2 separate regions of the Homo sapiens genome follow, and region 2 is linked to region 1. The links come from fine-mapping of genetic effects on gene expression. Tissue or cell type: whole blood. Region 1 holds a variant in brackets; the other region holds the start of a gene. All regions are shown on one strand. Distances are from middle to middle.

Region 1 (8,103 bases):
CTTTTTATTATTCTCCCATGGCATGTTGCAAAACAGTAAGCGTGAGCTGGTTTCCTGTGGCAAAAAAATGACTTTGATTTGTTCTTTTTGAGGTTACTGTGAGTTTATCATAACAGGAGTGCTAAAAATACCGAGTCTGGTATGGAAACAGCATTCACTTACCAGCATGAACAATAACATACAGGTTTAGCCTAGAGCAGGAAGAAATGGACTTCATCTCAAGATGAGAATACTTATCAGAGAATTCTTGGCAATCTTAACTTGCTCAGTCTCTGTTCTGATGAGTTATGGAAAAGTACTTAGACCATCTTTGAGCCACAGAATTGAAGCTGAAAATATTCTTAGACCAAACATTTTGTGAGCACCTGCTATGTACCAGATCTCATAGCTGGGACTAATCAGAGGAAGAGGAATAGAATAAGTGTTCTTGCCAATGTGAAAGACAAACAAATAATTCTACTCCTTGTGAGGACAGCTATAACAGAGGGCTATAGAAACTATCATGTGTTGTTCCTGGTTTTTGTTTGTTTTTTTTCCCCCCCAAAACAGGGTCTTGCTCTGCTTTCCAGGCTGGAGTGTGGTGGCACAATCATAACTCACTATAGCCTTGAACTCCTGGGCTCAAGTTATCCTCTCACCTCGACCTGCAAAGTAGCTGGGACTACAGGCGTGTGCCACCATGTCCAGCTATTTTAAAAAATCTGTTTGTACAGATTGGGGCAGGGAGGTCTTGCTATGTTGCCCAGGCTGGCCTTGAACTCCTGGCCTCAAGAAATCCTCTCACCTCAGTTTCCCAAAGAGGGACTATAGGAAAGCACCACCCTGCCTGGCTCGTTGTTCTGTTTTTAAATACATTTGCATTATTCCATAATAATCAAAGTAATTTATTATGGGAACTTAGGAAACTGAAGGTCTGACCATCTTTGGGGAGTTGTGAAGTCTTGACAGAGGAGGGGAGATCTGAGCTGTATTTCTCGGAACAGGTATTTGCCAGGTGGGAAAGAGGGAAGAATATTGCAGAGCAACACATGCACAGGGCCAGCAGGATAGAGGCTGAGCCTCGGAGGGGACTGGAGCTTGGAGAGAGCAGGCTAGTGGTTTCCCTATTGATAGAATATCAGAATCTGGCCAGGCGCGGTGGCTCACGCCTGTAATCCCAGCACTTTGAGAGACTGAGGTGGGCAGATCATGAGGTCAAGAGATCGAGACCATCCTGGCCAACATAGTGAAACCCCATCTCTACTAAAAATACAAAAATTAGCTGGGCATGGTGGTGTGCGCCTGTAGTCCCAGCTACTCGGGAGGGGGAGGCAGGAGAATCGCTTGAAAACCTGGAAGGCAGAGGTTGCAGTGAGCTGAGGTCGCGCCACTGCACTCCAGCCTGACGACAGGGCAAGACTCCATCTCCAAAAAAAAAAAAGAAATCTATCTATCTATCAGTCAGAATCACTGAGGAAACCGTTGAAAAATGCGGAGTGCCTGCTTGTAGCTCACATTACTGAATCCAGATAGCTAGGAGTGACTTGCATGTCTGCATTTTTCTATAGCACCCAGGTTTCTCAAATCAGCCAAGTTAGGGGAAAGTACTGTCATAGGAAAGGGAAGCCCATTTCCCAGGTCAAAGCCTTTGCTTACTCGTTTATGTTTATTTTATTTTTGAGACAGAGTCTAGCTTTGTTGCCCAGGCTGGAGTTGCAGGTGCAATCTCAGCTCATTGCAACCTCCGCCTTTTGGATTCGTGCAATTCTCCTGCCTCAGCCTCCAAGTAGTGGGGATCACAGGCACACGCCACCATGCCTGGCTAATTTTTGTATTTTTAGTGGAGACAGGGTTTCGCCATGTTGGCCAGGCTGGTCTCGAACTCTTGACCTCAAGTGATCCATGCACCTCGGCCTTCCAGGTGCTGAGTTTATAGGCATGAGCCATCGTGCATAGCCTGCGTTTTTCTTTTAAAATGTGTTAAGCACTGTATTTCAAATTACATTTGTGCACTGAAGCAGGGAGGAAAAAGGAGCTAACCCAAGTAGCTGTTCAATATAGTATTTTGACTGCATACCCTCAAAGTAAAGAAAAATCTCACCTGGCGCGGTGGCTTATGCCTGTAATCCCAGCACTTTGGGAGGCTGAGGTGGGTGGCTCACAGGGTCAGGAGATCGAGACCATCCTGGCTGACACGGTGAAACCTCGTCTCTACTAAAAATACAAAAATTAGCCGGGCGTGGTGGCGGGCGTCTGTAGTCTCAGCTACTTGGGAGGCTGAGGCAGGAGAATGGTGTGAACCCGGGAGGCAGAGCTTGCAGTGAGCCGAGATCTCACCACTGCACTCCAGCATGGGCGACAGAACAAGGCTCTGTCTCCAAAAAAAAAAAAAAAAGAAAGAAAAATCTCTAGCCGGTCGCGATGGCTCACGCCTGTAATCCTAGCACTTTGGGAGGCTGAAGCAGGTGGATTGCCTGAGCTCAGAAGTTTGAGACCAGCCTGGGCAACATGGTGAAACCCTGTCTCTACTAAAGTACAAAAAAATTAGCCAGACATGGTGGCACACTCCTATAATCCTAGCTACTTGGGAGGCTGAGGCAGGAGAATTGCTTGAACCCTGGAGGCAGAGGTTGCAGTGAGCCGAGGTTGCTCCATTGCACTCCAGCCTGGGTGACAGAGCATCTTAAGAAAAAAAAAAAAAGAAAAACTCTAAATAAATATTGAACTCTGCTTAGTAGGGATTTTGTTTTCAGATGAGGTCTTGCTCTGTACCCCAGGCTGGAGTGCAGTGTCACGATCATAACTTACTGCAGCTTCTCCCTCCCAGCTCAAGCAATCCTCACATCACAGCCTCCCAAGTAGCTGGGATTATAGGCAAGTAGCAGGGATTACAGGCATGCAATACCACACCCAGCTGATTTTGGTATTATTTGTAGAGACGGGGTTTCACTGTGTTGCCCAGGGTAGTCTCTGTCTCCTGGGCTGAAGTGAGCCTCCTGCCCAAAGTGTTGGGATTACAGGTGTGAGCCACTTTGCCTGGCCTAGTAGGTTTGTTTTTCACAGTGATAGGGGTTAGCAATTCTGAAACTACTTACTGTTCTTCTAAGATTGAGCAGATAGGTAAGTATAGTGTTAATAGTGAGAATCAAGTTTTCTTATTGTCAGAAAAGGGTGTTCCTATGAATGTGGACAGTGGGAAAGGCTAGAAGGAGCCATGTGGTATTGGATTGGAATTGAAGTTATCTGGATGAACTCATGGTTTCTTATACGTAGATGTAGTAATAGATGTATGTGTGTATGCATATCCACTTTTACACGTGTTTATTTCCTAGAATTGTTTCCTAGAATTGTTGAGAGGGTTTATGCCCAGAGACATCCCAGAAGCACTGAACGCACTCATGCCAAGATGTTAATACCTTTCCTCACTAAAGAGAAACCAGGGTTCCTTGGAGAAATGGCTGTTTCCAGATCTGGGGTAGGAAAATTACAGGTGAGCTTGGAATATCCTGCTATGCCAGAAAGTAAGGAAGTGCTCTAAGAATGATAGGGGCATGTCAAAAGAACAAGAAGAATAATCAATTAATGTAAACAAGGAATTATGAAGATAACAAAGTCTATCTTTGACTATCACCATAGTAGTAACAATTGTTTCAATCAAGAATCAAAGTGCTAAAATCAATGGGGAACAGTTTGCGGTGAAACAGTGTAGATGTTTCCTTATCAGATGCTTTTATGCTATGCCTGGTGGCTCACCCCTATAAATCCCAAGAGGCTGAGGCAAATTGATCACTTGCACCCAGGAGTTTTGAGACCAGCCTGGGCAACAAAACGAGACCCCATCTCTACAAAAAATAAAAAAGTTAGCCAGATACAGTGGTGCATGCATGTAGTCCTAGCTACTCAGGAGGATGAGATGGGAGGATCGGTTGAGCGCAGGAGGTCGAAGCTGCAGTGAGTTGTGATTGCACCACTGCACTCCAGCCTGGGAGCAAGACTTTGTCTCCCCCGAAAAAGAAGATGCTTTTAAATGAATTACATAGAGAGACATTGGAGAACCCTGGCAGGTTGTACCTCAGCTGAGTGATGAAATTAACAATCTAGGGATGGACAGTTAGACCTCATGCCTCTTGGAATATGTAACCCTGGGTTGGATCTGAGAATAGAGGAAGGTTTTTTTTCTTTTGCTCTAAAGGATGTTAGTGGAACAATTGGTAAAAAGAGGCCCCGGCGTGGTGGCTCACGCCTATAATCCCAGCACTTTGGGAAGCCGAGGCAGGTGGATCACCTGAGGTCGGGAGTTCGAGACCAGCCTGCCCAACATGGAGAAACCCC[A/G]TCTCTACTAAAAATACAAAATTAGCCAGGCGTGGTGGTGCATGCCTGTAATCCCAGCTACTTGGGAAGCTGAGGCAGGAGAATCGCTTGAACCCAGGAGGCGGAGGTTGTGGTGAGCCGAGATCGCGCCATTGCACTCCAGCTTGGGCAACAAGAGCGAAACTCTATCTCAAAATAGTAATAATAATAATAAAATAAAAAACAAATAAAAAGGTCTGTAGGTTAGATAGCAGTACTGTTTCCATGTTATTTATTTTTACAGTTATGATAATTGTCTCATGGTTATTTAAGAGAATGGTTTTTGTTTTGTTTTTCTTGTTTTTTCTTTTCCTTTTTTTTTTTTTTTTTTTTGAGATGGAGTCTCACTCTGTCGCCCATGCTGGAGTGCAGTGGCATCATCTCGGCTCACTGCAAGCTCCACCTCATAGGTTTACGCCATTCTCCTGCCTCCCCCTCCCAGGTAGCTGGGACTACAGGTGCCCGCCACCACACCTGGCTAATTTTTGTATTTTTGGTAGAGATGGGGTTTCGCCATGTTAGCCAGGCTGGTCTCGAACTCCTAGCCTCAGGTGATCCTCCCACCTCAGCCTCCTGAAGTGCTGGGATTATAAGTGTGAGCCAGTGCACCTGGCCTCTTTTTTTTTTTTTTTTTTTTTAATTTTACAGAATTTTTTTTTTTTTTAAGACAGAGTCTTGCTCTAAGGCTGTAGTGCAGTGGTATGATCACAGCTTGCTGCAGCCTCAGCCTCCTGGACTCAAGCGATCCTCCCACATCACCCTTCTGAGTAGGTGGGATTATTGTAGGCTAAATTTTTAATTTTATTGTAGAGAGGCCTCACTCCATGGCCTAGGCTGGTCTTGAACTCCTGGGCTCAAGTGATCCTCCCACTTCTGCCTCCCAAAGCATTGGGATAACAGACGTGAGCCACTGCACCCAGCCTGTTAGATAATTTAGAAAATTTTCTTTCCTCATTCTTCAATTTCCCCTCATTCACACTCCCAACTTTCCTGTTTTGTGATTTTTAAATGACGTTGTCTTTGGATGCCGGCTGGATTTGGTGATTAGTTCTCTTCAGAAGAAACTTCTTATTTTAGAACTTGTAACCTTTGCAAAGCAGGCCATAGGCAGCCATCGCTATTTGGGTATGACATTCCCCAGTGGGTTTTTGGTGTCCAGTAATGACAAAAACTGCTGAGAAAGAGACAGCCACAGGGAAATGGGTTCCGATAATGGGGCAGCAGCTGAGTGCTTGTTGATTTGCTGCTGTCATGACCACAGATGTTTAAAAATAATTTGTAAGGAAAAAGAAAAAAGCGTAGTGTGTGTGTGTGTGTGTGTGTGTGTGTGTGTGCGCGCACGCACGCGCGCGCGCACACCACTGCCTTATCAGTGGTAGAGAATGCAGACCACAGTCATTCAGAAAGGAAGAAGGCACCACCATGGAAACAGGAGAGGTGAGGAGAAGGGCAGAGGTGACCCACAAATGCGGCTCAGTGCCTTACAGCAGAGAGCTCATGAGAGAACAGAACTGGTTAGTCACCGACTCTGCTCCTCGGTCTGCAAGAGAGGTTCAGCACCAAGTCTATACTACACAGTACTGGAAGGATTAGATGAAGGCCTGGCACACATTGTGAATTAATAGTTACTGGTTACAGGCGGGGTGTGGTGGCTCAGGCTTGTAATCCCAGCCCTTTGGGAGGCCAAAGTGGGAGGATTGCTTGAGGCCAATAGTCCAAGACCAACATGGGCAACATAGCAACACCCTGTCTCTTTTTTTGACTGTTTTTTTGAAACAGTCTCGTTCTGTCAGCCAGGCTGGAGTGCAGTGGCACAATCTTGGCTCACTGCAACCTCTGCCTCCCAGGTTCAAGCAATTCTCCTGCCTCTGCCTCCCGAGTAGCTGGGATTACAGGTGCCTACCACCACGTCCGGCTAATTTTTGTATTTTTAGTGGAGATGGGCTTTCACCATGTTGGCCAGGCTGGTCTCAAACTCTTGACCTCAGGTGATCCACCCACCTTGGCCTCCCAAAGTGCTGGGATTACAGGCGTGAGCCACTGTGCCTGACCGGTTCACGTACTTTACATGCATTGTGATCATATTAAATCTTCATGACAGCCTTACTAGATCAGGTCTTGTCCTGTTTTCACATGAGGAAATTGAATCTTGGAAGGGCTAAGTCATTTGTCCAGGGTCATCACACGCAGTAAGTGTTAGAGTCTAAACGAGCCAGAGCTGTCACACTGTCATCCCCAGGGCCTTGTGTTTAAGCATCGCCCAACAAAGTGCTCAGTCAGACTTTAATTATTAGCATTACTAATAATACCATTATGATGATTATTTTGTCTAAACTTCACAGGCACCTCGTGACATTTTCTTATTCCACTTTTGCAGATGGGAAACTGAGGCCCACCAAGATCAGATTACAATAATGGGCAACATTGTCAGCAACCTGCCTTGCTTTTTTTCTTAGCAGGCCCACATCTCCCCCACTCCCCCACCCACTTGGCAGTAGCCTGTGTTTGAGCTGCTCACAGGCCCCAAGGCCCAGCTGCAATTCTTGTTTAAAGCCTCACATCTTTTCTCTGACTGTCAGACAACAGTCACGGGAATGTCCTGTGCCATCTTCCCTCGGCAAGAGGGGTTGGCAGAGAGCAGCAGATGCCTAGAGTCAAGGTCATGTGCTGCTCAAGTGCTGGGCTGGAGACAAGACCCTCTCTCCCTGCTGCTTGTGACCAGGCAGGGTGGCTCTGAATGTAGAGGGCTCTGTCAGAACAGTTCTGTGACCAGAGGGTGTGGTTGGCAAAGCAATGCATTAGGGGCCCATGGAAGTTTATTCTTGTTGTCCACATTATTTCCCTGTGACTTTTAGATTTTTTTTTCCTTTTTGTAAATTAGTTTTTTCATACTAGTTAGAATGTTTCACCTTAAAGGTGAGAGTCAAGCTCTGGAATCGCCTGACATTTTTAAGGAAAGGAATAGAATATTGGGCTGGGGCTAGTCTGAAATGGTGGTTTGTATTATTTTAAATTGATGGGCTCTGGGTTAGGGGAGCCAAATCCATTTTAAAGTGATTTTTGTAAAAATTGGCATGTCTTCTGTTTCTTCTCTTTTCCAAAGGTGACACTATAACGTAGAGGTTAAGAATGTGGTGACTTTTAAATCCGTCGTGACCATAAGCCTCTCCTAAGCCCCAGTTTTCCTACCACTAAAATGGGGGTGGTAACAGTTGTACCTACCTCATTCTGTCTTTTTTGTTTTTTGCTTGTTTGTTTGTTTTTTAGATGGAGTCTTGCTCTTGTCGCCCAGGCTGGAGTGCAATGGTGTGATTTTGGCTCATTGCAACCTCCACCTCCTGGGTTCAAGCGATTCTCCTGCCTCAACTTCCCGAGTAGCTGGGATGACAGGCACCCGCCACCATGCCCATTTAGTTTTTGTATTTTTAGTAGAGATGGGGTTTCACCACGTTGGCCAGGCTACTCTTGAACTCCTGACCTCAGGTGATCCACCCACCTCAGCCTCCCAAAGTGCTGGGATTACAGGCGTGAGCCACCACTGCCGGCCTCGTTCTGTCGTATTTTTTTACGTAGGAGAGCTCAGTCTGAATGTAGGATATGACATGGTTGTGGGGTTTTTTTTGTTTTTGTTTTGTTTTTGTTTTGTTTTGTTTTGTTTTGTTTTGTTTTGTTTTGTTTTTGAGACAGTCTCACTCTGTCCCCCAGGCTGGAGTGCAGTGGTGTGATAGCTCACTGAAACCTCTACCTCCCAAGTTCAAGCGATTCTCCTGCCTC
Region 2 (8,103 bases), 50 kb after region 1:
GTCACCTGTCTGGCCAGCTACGTCCCCACGGCCCTTGTCAGTGTGGAAGGTAGACGGCCAGAGAGGTGACCCCGGGGGTGGTCAGGCTTAACGACCTCTATTTTCCAAAGGGGCCACATTTTGCCTTTTCCATGTGACAGGCAGGGAAACTGAGGCCCGCCCTTAGGGAGTATCCCAAGGTCACACAGGGATACAGTGACTGACCCCACCCAGATCACAAGCCTCAGGTCTCCTGCCCTCTCGTGTCCAACCACAGGGAAGCCACACCTCCGGATGTGGCAGAGGCCTAGAGACCAGAAGGCCAGAGACTGTGGCAGCTTCAGAGCGCGGGCCTGGGGGGCTGGGACGCGGGAGATGCCTTCCTGCCCCCCCCCCCCCCCCACTTCTGAGCGCCCTAGGAGGCTCCTGCCCTCCCGTCCCACCAGGTCCTGGCCTGAGGGTTCCCTAAGGCCTACAGCCAGGGCCTCAGTTTCCACATCTGTGACCTTGGCCTTGAAATCGGTGTCCCCTTCCAGGGCTTCCAGGAACTGAGTTAGGGAAGTTTTCTCTTTCCTCGCTCCCCTTGGGCTGCCGGGACAAGATGGGGGATGGGAAACCAGGACACACTTTCCCTAGAGCGCCTGCCGGCAGGGATGGGGCTCCACGGGCACCACAGGGTTAACAGCCCATCAGGCAGGGGACCTTTAACCCTTCCCTCCCCAAGACTCCCCCACCTCCCCGAGGGGACTTCCCAACACAATGGCCCCTCCCCCTCTCCTTCCTCCGCCGGGACTGCTGAGGACAGCCCCTGGCCAAAGAGATGCAAATAAAAGCAAAAGGCCTCTCGACCCCTCCCCAGAGGCCAGAGTTGACAGTCCTCCCGCTCGGCCCACTCTCCCTGCAACAGGAATCCTCCAGGGGGTCTAGAGGACCCAGACTGGGGGAGGGGAGCTGGGATGCAGCTGTTGCCCCAGGCCCGGAAGAGACAGTGGGCTGCAATTCGGGGACTGCAGTCAGATTCCAGGAGGGACTTCCCACTTGACCTCCCCCTCCACCCCCAGCCTCCGTCTTCCTGCTTCTTGCAACACAAAGACCACATTGGCCACACCCTCCCAGTGGCCCGGCTGGGCCCGCCACCTCCCCCCGTCCTCTCCCACTTCTCCAGTTCCTCCGAGTCTCCAGCCCTCTCTCTTCCCGGCTCCTATCACCCCGGGGGCGGGGCGGGCACTCACCGTCCGGGCGCGGGCCTCGGGGCCGGCTGCGGGGACCCCCAGGCCAGCGGGAACCCCCCAGGGCGGCGGTGACGGCGGGTGGGGCGGTGGGGGCGCAGAGGTAGGCAGCGGGCAGCAGGGTGGGGGCGGCGGGGGCGGCAGCCAGGCCGGGCTCGCAGAGGCCGCAGGACACTGCCGAGGGCACCAGGCGGCCGAGCGGGAAGGGGCGCGGGCCGTCGCGGGCCAGGCCCTCTACGGGCTCCGGGGAGCTGCCCTCCTGGCGTGCGCGGGCCATGGCGCTCCCTGGGGCCTGCGGGACACGGGAGGAGGAGCAGGTCAGCAGGGAAGTACCAGGGCCCACTGTACCTCCAGCCTACCCGGGGTTAGGACCCAGATGGAGAAGAGTGGAGGTGTGTGTGCATGCGGAGGGGGTGACGGCCCCACAGAGACACGCCCAGCCGGGGGATGACACCACCGGGTCCTGGCTGGCCTGGAGAGCCTCCCGTGCATACGGTGATGGGCACACAGGAGGGACAGGGGGCACAGGACGGCTCTCACAGCAAGGACAGGGCTCACACAGGACGGATGGAGGGGTCTAGCAGGTGTGTGTATGAGGGCTGTGACAGTCCCACAACACAAACTCACTCCACTTGGGACTCACAGCATGGGCTGGTGGGGACAACTTTCCCAACACAGCGACGGGCACACAGGGAGGGCAGTGAGGCACAGCGAGGCCCCCACAGCACACACACAAGGACTCACACGGGACTGGCCAGCCTGACCGCCCACCCCACCTCCCACTTGCACACAAACACTGAGATGGCCCCAGTCTCGGACATCACTACTCAGTACACACAATACACACACACCCCCGACCAAAGCAGGAGCATCCAGACAGACCATCACAAGCACTCTACATACTGCGCACACTGGCTGGCACAATCCATCCCCACACATCCAAACTGTCAAAGTCTCACACACTGACCCACTGTTGATATGCCCAGGGGCACATGCAAACACAATGCAGCCTTTGCAAACACAAACACACACACACAAGCTAGGCACTGCCTCAGTTCCCAAACATGCCCCTCTCCACACACACACACTCACTCCAGAGATAAGACCTGCACACCTCTGGACTCACATATCAACACAAAACAGACACCCACGGACACACATACATCAACACCCCCAAAACACACCCACATGTCACCAACTCTCAGGACACACGTAGATCAGGCACACACAGACACATGCCATCAGACCTCAACACACCACCAGACACCAACCCACCCTCCTCACGCAACCCTCAAACATCATCACCAACTGTCAGCAACACACACACACACACACCCTACAGCTAACTCTAATCCCACACAGCCCAGCAGCACACACACCTAGCGCACCCACAGAAAACACTGGTCTCACGTGACTGACATAAACACTACACACACGCAGCCCACATGACACACATGAGCCAGCCGATCACAGTGACAAGCCCCTCAGACCCAACACACACACACACACACAGGCTCAGACACAACCCCATCCAGAGGCTGCCAGCAACACCCACCGTCTACACTGCATAGACCCCACAGATCCTGGGTCCTCAAATCCCAGACGCTGATGCCAGACACACAAGCCAAACCCAGACTGAAACAACCCCCCACCACACACATACATACACACACACACTCACACCTGACAACTCACACAGACACCTGGACAGAAAACAGACATTTGCATTTAGCAGGCGCAGCATCACAAACGCTGGGCAAAAGACACATGCCCCGGAGATACAGAGACGGCCTCAGCCAAGACAGAAACACACAGGCAAGACACAAGCACACATATCGCACGCTCGGGCAAGACACACACATAAACACACAAACAGCTCACTCCAGCAACACACACACACTACAACCTCCACACCCCAGCACACGCAGGCACCACAGACCCCCAGTATCATCCCGGAACAGCACACACAGACAACTCTCACCGACAACACACGCAGGTCCACCCACCCCACAAGCAGGGCACCCACAGACAGAACCCCACACAAACAGGCGCGGGGACTCACGCAGACACCCCGACGGGTCAGAAACCCCAACATTCCTCTGGATCGACACCACCACTCCCTGCAGAACCCAGCACAAACTCGGAGCCAGACACGCGCACACACCCAGGCGAGACACCTGCAGATCCACAACCCCGCACACGCGCGCTCCCACGGCGGTCCCAGACACCCCCCTCCGCTGTCACAGCCCCCCCCACCGCCGCCACGTGCGCCCGCCCCGCCCGCCAGGCGAGCGCGGGGCCAATAACCGGCTGTTGCTGGGGCGCAGCCCCCGCCCGCAGGAGCCGCAGACTCCACGGCCCGCGAGCCGCCCCCCGTCGCCGCCCCCAGCGGGCGCGCGCCCTGGGTGTGGCCGCCCCTCCGTGCCGCCCCCCCGCCCCTCCCGGACTTTGGGGGCTGGGGCACCCCTGGGGTCGACCCTCTTCCCCGGGGCCGCACTGGCCGCCAGGGGGCGCTGCCGAGCCCGCACCCCATTGTTTGTAAACAAACCCGCCAGACCGCCGAGGCACCTGTGCGCCCAGACCGGCGCCCCAACGCCGAGCCGCCTCTCACCCGGCGACCCTGGCCCAGGGTCCCTCGCGGGGTTTGGAGAGGCGCGGTGTGGGGAGGCAGGGCGCCCACACTGCTCTCCGCCTGCACTCCTGTCACCTCCTCCAGGGAGTCCACCCGGCCTGGCCGATCGCCGCCGGAGAGGATTCGGGGCGCGCACACTCACCCCGGGGGCATGAACACGCCGGAGGGGGCGGCGGTGGGGGGCGGGCGGCTTCCTTCAGGAGGGCGCGCCCGCCGAGCGCCGCTCTCCGCGGCGGCTGCTGCTGTGGCTGTCGCTGCTGCTGCCGCTCTAACTGCAGTGGCGGCTGCTGTGGCTGTGGCTGCTGCTGCTCCCCGGGCCGCAGGCGCGTCCGCGTCGTGGCCGCTGCTGGGATCGCTGGTGCCGCCGCCGCCGCCGCCAGGCGCCCGCTCGCATGTGGCTCGCGCCGCGTCTCAGGCCGCCCGGCGGATCCCGGGCCCGCTCCAAAGCCGCCCCGCCCCGCCCCGCCCCGCCCCCGCCCGGCGGGTCCCACGCCCCGCCCCCGCGTGACGCTACGGCCCCGCCCGCCCGCCGCGGACAAGTCAGGACTTGCAGGCGCGCGCCGCGCCCCCCCCTACCTCCGCGCCGGGGGTTTCCCTGCAGCGGGGGACGGGGCAGGGCCTAGCCCAAGGCAAGGAGGACCCAGGCGCTGTGCGGCGGGGTGTGGGGAGATCGCCCAGACACCGGGACAGTCGGACACACACACTGACTGGGACCCACAGATCCACACCCCCAGCGATGCGTACACAGACCGACCGACGGGCGTTCCAGGGTCCACAAAGTCACGTGCAGGCAGAGCCCAGAGGATGTACTCACAGACACAAGGCCACAGTCTCGCAAATCCACACCATGGACAGGGGCATGAGCACACACACTCACATACTGATGGGGCTCACACTTACACACACCCAGACGGAAATGCACAGACTCACTAACAGGGTCCCCTGGACAAGCAGACGGACACAATGACAGGGCCACACACAGTTGCAGAAACACCCACACTGATGATCACACCTGGGCCCACAAACTGTGTTCACAAACAACCCTACCGAACAGGCACCCACACCACACACACGGTGGTGCAACCACACAGACATAGGCGGAGTGCTTATCAGGAAACACAAACTTGCTGATAGGCACAGGGGACACACACATACACACAGACACCTGTTACAGGGATACCTGGATACACGGCCAAATCCAAATCACACTCCCACAGGGACATACACAAATGCACTCACACAATTTCACAGCTAACACATTAAAACTATCAGAAAGTGACATTCGCCCGACACGGTGGCTCATGCCTGTAATCCCAGCACTTTGGGAGGCCAAGGTGCGTGGACTGCCTGAGGTCAGGAATTCGAGACCAGCCTGACCAACATGATGAAACCCCATCTCTACTAAAAATACAAAATTAGCCGGGCGTTGTGGCGCATGCCTGTAATCCCAGCTACTTGGGAGGCTGAGGCAGGAGAACTGCTTGAACCCGGGAGGCGGAGGTTGCAGTGAGCCGAGATAGTGCCATTGCACTCTAGCCTGGGCAACAAGAGCAAACTCCGTCTTAAAAATAAAAATAAAGGAAAGAAACTGACATTCAGAGACACAAACCAAATCAGACATAGAAGAAACTGACCACCCACACATGTCACAAAGTCACACCTGTGACAGCTTCTTGCTAACTGGCCCACTGCACACACGTCGGAGCATGCACACCTGGCCACACTCACCACAAATCTGGCAGGGGACCCACGTCGTGGAAGCAGCCCTGGGCACCTGGCATGGACATGCCTGGGCAGACCCCATGCCAAATTTCATCCTGTCTCATAGCTTTCCATTCCGTTTCTTTTTCAGTTTCTCATTGTTACTTCCTGCCCTGCTCTGGTTTGGTGAGTTTTGTCCTTCCTTTTTCCAAAGCCGTGGATTCCTGTCTCCTCTACACTTTCCATCCTTACTGGGTCTCACCCAATCGCAATCGCCTCACCAGAGTGACTCACCTTCCAGTGCCTAGTGTGGGGCTGGCTGAGTAAGGATGTCAGACTTCTCAAACTTGACTGCCTCCAAGTACACACTCTTAGCTCCCCCAAGAGATGCAGGTAATCTATATCTCACGTGAAATCTCCCCATTTGCAACATTGGGAACTCCTCAGCTTTCCTCCCTCTTTCACTTTCCCTCCTCTTTCGCTTTCCCCGATTATTCATTGTCCCTTCCTTCTTCCTGGTGTTTTCCAAACTGTGGGTCATGAGTAAACCATGGATTATGACATATGACATCACTTACATGGATCTTACTTTTTTTTTTTTTTTTGAGACAGAGTCTCGCGCTGTCGCCCAGGCTGGAGTTCAGTGGCATGATCTCGGCTCATTGCCACCTCCGCCTCCTGGGTTCAAGCAAGTCTTCTGCCTCAGCCTCCCTAGTAGCTGGGACTACAGGTGTGCGCCACTATGCCCAGCTAATTTTTGTATTATTGGTAGAGATGCGGTTTCACCATATTGGCCAGGCTGGTCTCAAACTCCTGACCTCGGGATCCGCCTGTCTTGGCCTCCCAAAGTGCTGGGATTACAGGTGTGAGCCACTGCACTCAGCTTTTTTTTTTTTTTTTTTTTGAGACGGAATGTCACTCTGTTGCCCAGACTGGAGTGCAGTGGCACGATCTCAGCAAACTGCAAGCTCCGCCTCCCAGGTTCAGGCCTTTCTGCCTCAGCCTCCCCAGTAGCAGGGAGTACAGGCGTCTGCCACCACACCCGGCTAATTTTTTGTATTTTTTAGTAGAGACAGTGTTTCACCATGTTAGCCAGGATGGTCTCGATCTCCTGACCTCGTGATCTGCCCTCCTCGGCCTCCCAAAGTGCTGGGATTATGGCGTGAGCCACTGCACCTGGCCCAGCCTTTTTTTTTTTTAGATAAAAGATTCACTCTGTCGCCCAGATTGGAGTGTAGTGGCACAATGGATAGCCTTGTGGTACAATAGCCTTGCAGCTTCAAACTCCTGGGCTCCAGAGATCCTCCTGCCTCAGCCTCCCAAGTAACTGGGACTACAGGTGTAAACCACCACGCCCAGCTAATTTTTATTTTTTTGTAGAGATGGGCGGTCTCGCTATGTTGCCCAGTCTGGTCTTGACCTTATGGGCTCAAGCAAACCTCCTGCCTCCGCCTCCCTCAGTGCTGGGATTACAGGTGTGAACCACCATGCCCGGCTGACTTAATGCATTTTACTCAGTAAGATGCATTCACATCCCAACCAACTTGCGCTTTACTGAGATGTATTTAGACACAAGAATATTCACTCTTTTTAGGTGTATGGTGTGTAAGTGGTGATAAAAGTACACAATTTTGTATTACCACAACTTCTACCTGCAATTTTACTGACCTAGACAAGAGGTTTTGTTGTTGTTTTAATTGAGACAGATTCTGGCTGTGTTACCCAGGCTGGTTTCAAACTCCTGCGCTCAAGCGATCCTCCCACCTCAGCCTCCCTAGTAGCTGGGATTATAGGTGTGCATGACTGCTTTGACCAGAGTTAAAAAAAAATACACCACAGGCCGGGCATGGTGGCTCACACCTGTAATCCTAGCACTTTGGGAGGCCGGGGGACGTGGATCACCTGAGGTCAGGAGTTTGAGACTAGCCTGGCCATCATGGTAAAACCCCATCTCTACTAAAAATACAGAAATTAGCTGGGCATGGTGGTGGGTGCCTGTAATCCCAGCTACTCGGGAGCTTGAGGCAGAAGAATTGCTTGAACCCAAGGGAAGGAGGTTTCGGTGAGCCGAGATCGCGCCATTCCATTCCAGCCTGGGCGACAAGGGCAAAACTCCGTCTCAAAACGCCAACAACAAAAATACACTACAGGCTGGGCACGGTGGCTCATGCCTGTAATCCTAACACTTTGAGAGGCCGAGGCGAGTGGATCACTTAAGGTCCGGAGTTCGACACCAGCCTGGCCAACAGGGTGAAGCCCCGTCTTTACCAAAAATATAAAAGTTAGCCAAAAATTGGTGGCGCACACCTGTAGTCCCAGCTACTCGGGAGGCTGAGACGGGAGAATCACTTGAACTCAGGAGGCAGAGGTTGCAATGAGCAGATATCGTGCCACTGCACTCCAAACAGGGCAACGGAGCAAGACTCTGTCAAAAAAAAAAACACACTACAAAATACAATTTTGAGGCCGGGCATAGGGGCTCACGCCTGTAATCCTAGCACTTTGGGAGGTCGAGGTGGGTGGATCACCTAAGGTCAGGAGTTCGAGACCAGCCTGGCCAAC

The links. PIP is the estimated chance that this variant, and not a neighbour inherited with it, causes the effect.
Region 2: BBC3 starts here. The variant in region 1 is fine-mapped to the expression of BBC3 in whole blood (TOPMed, PIP above 0.99).

What each region holds. Positions count from the first base shown.
Region 1 is chr19:47,176,835-47,184,937 of GRCh38, forward strand. The region is part of intron 6 of SAE1 (SUMO1 activating enzyme subunit 1); the gene reads left to right. Among named protein-coding and RNA genes, the nearest start is that of MIR3190, 46 kb to the right of the region's middle. The variant A/G (reference allele first, on the strand shown) is at 4,312.
Region 2 is chr19:47,226,947-47,235,049 of GRCh38, forward strand. It overlaps BBC3 (BCL2 binding component 3), which reads right to left and starts at 4,253. Exons shown (of 4, transcript NM_014417.5): 1 at 3,983-4,253; 2 at 1,212-1,500. The coding sequence starts at 1,485. It overlaps MIR3190 (microRNA 3190), which reads left to right; the gene lies at 1-75. MIR3191 (microRNA 3191) reads right to left here and starts at 73; the gene lies at 1-73. RefSeq lists enhancers at 136-1,078, 4,641-4,760, 5,470-6,093, 5,520-5,789 and silencers at 1,111-1,550, 3,411-4,130, 4,271-4,500.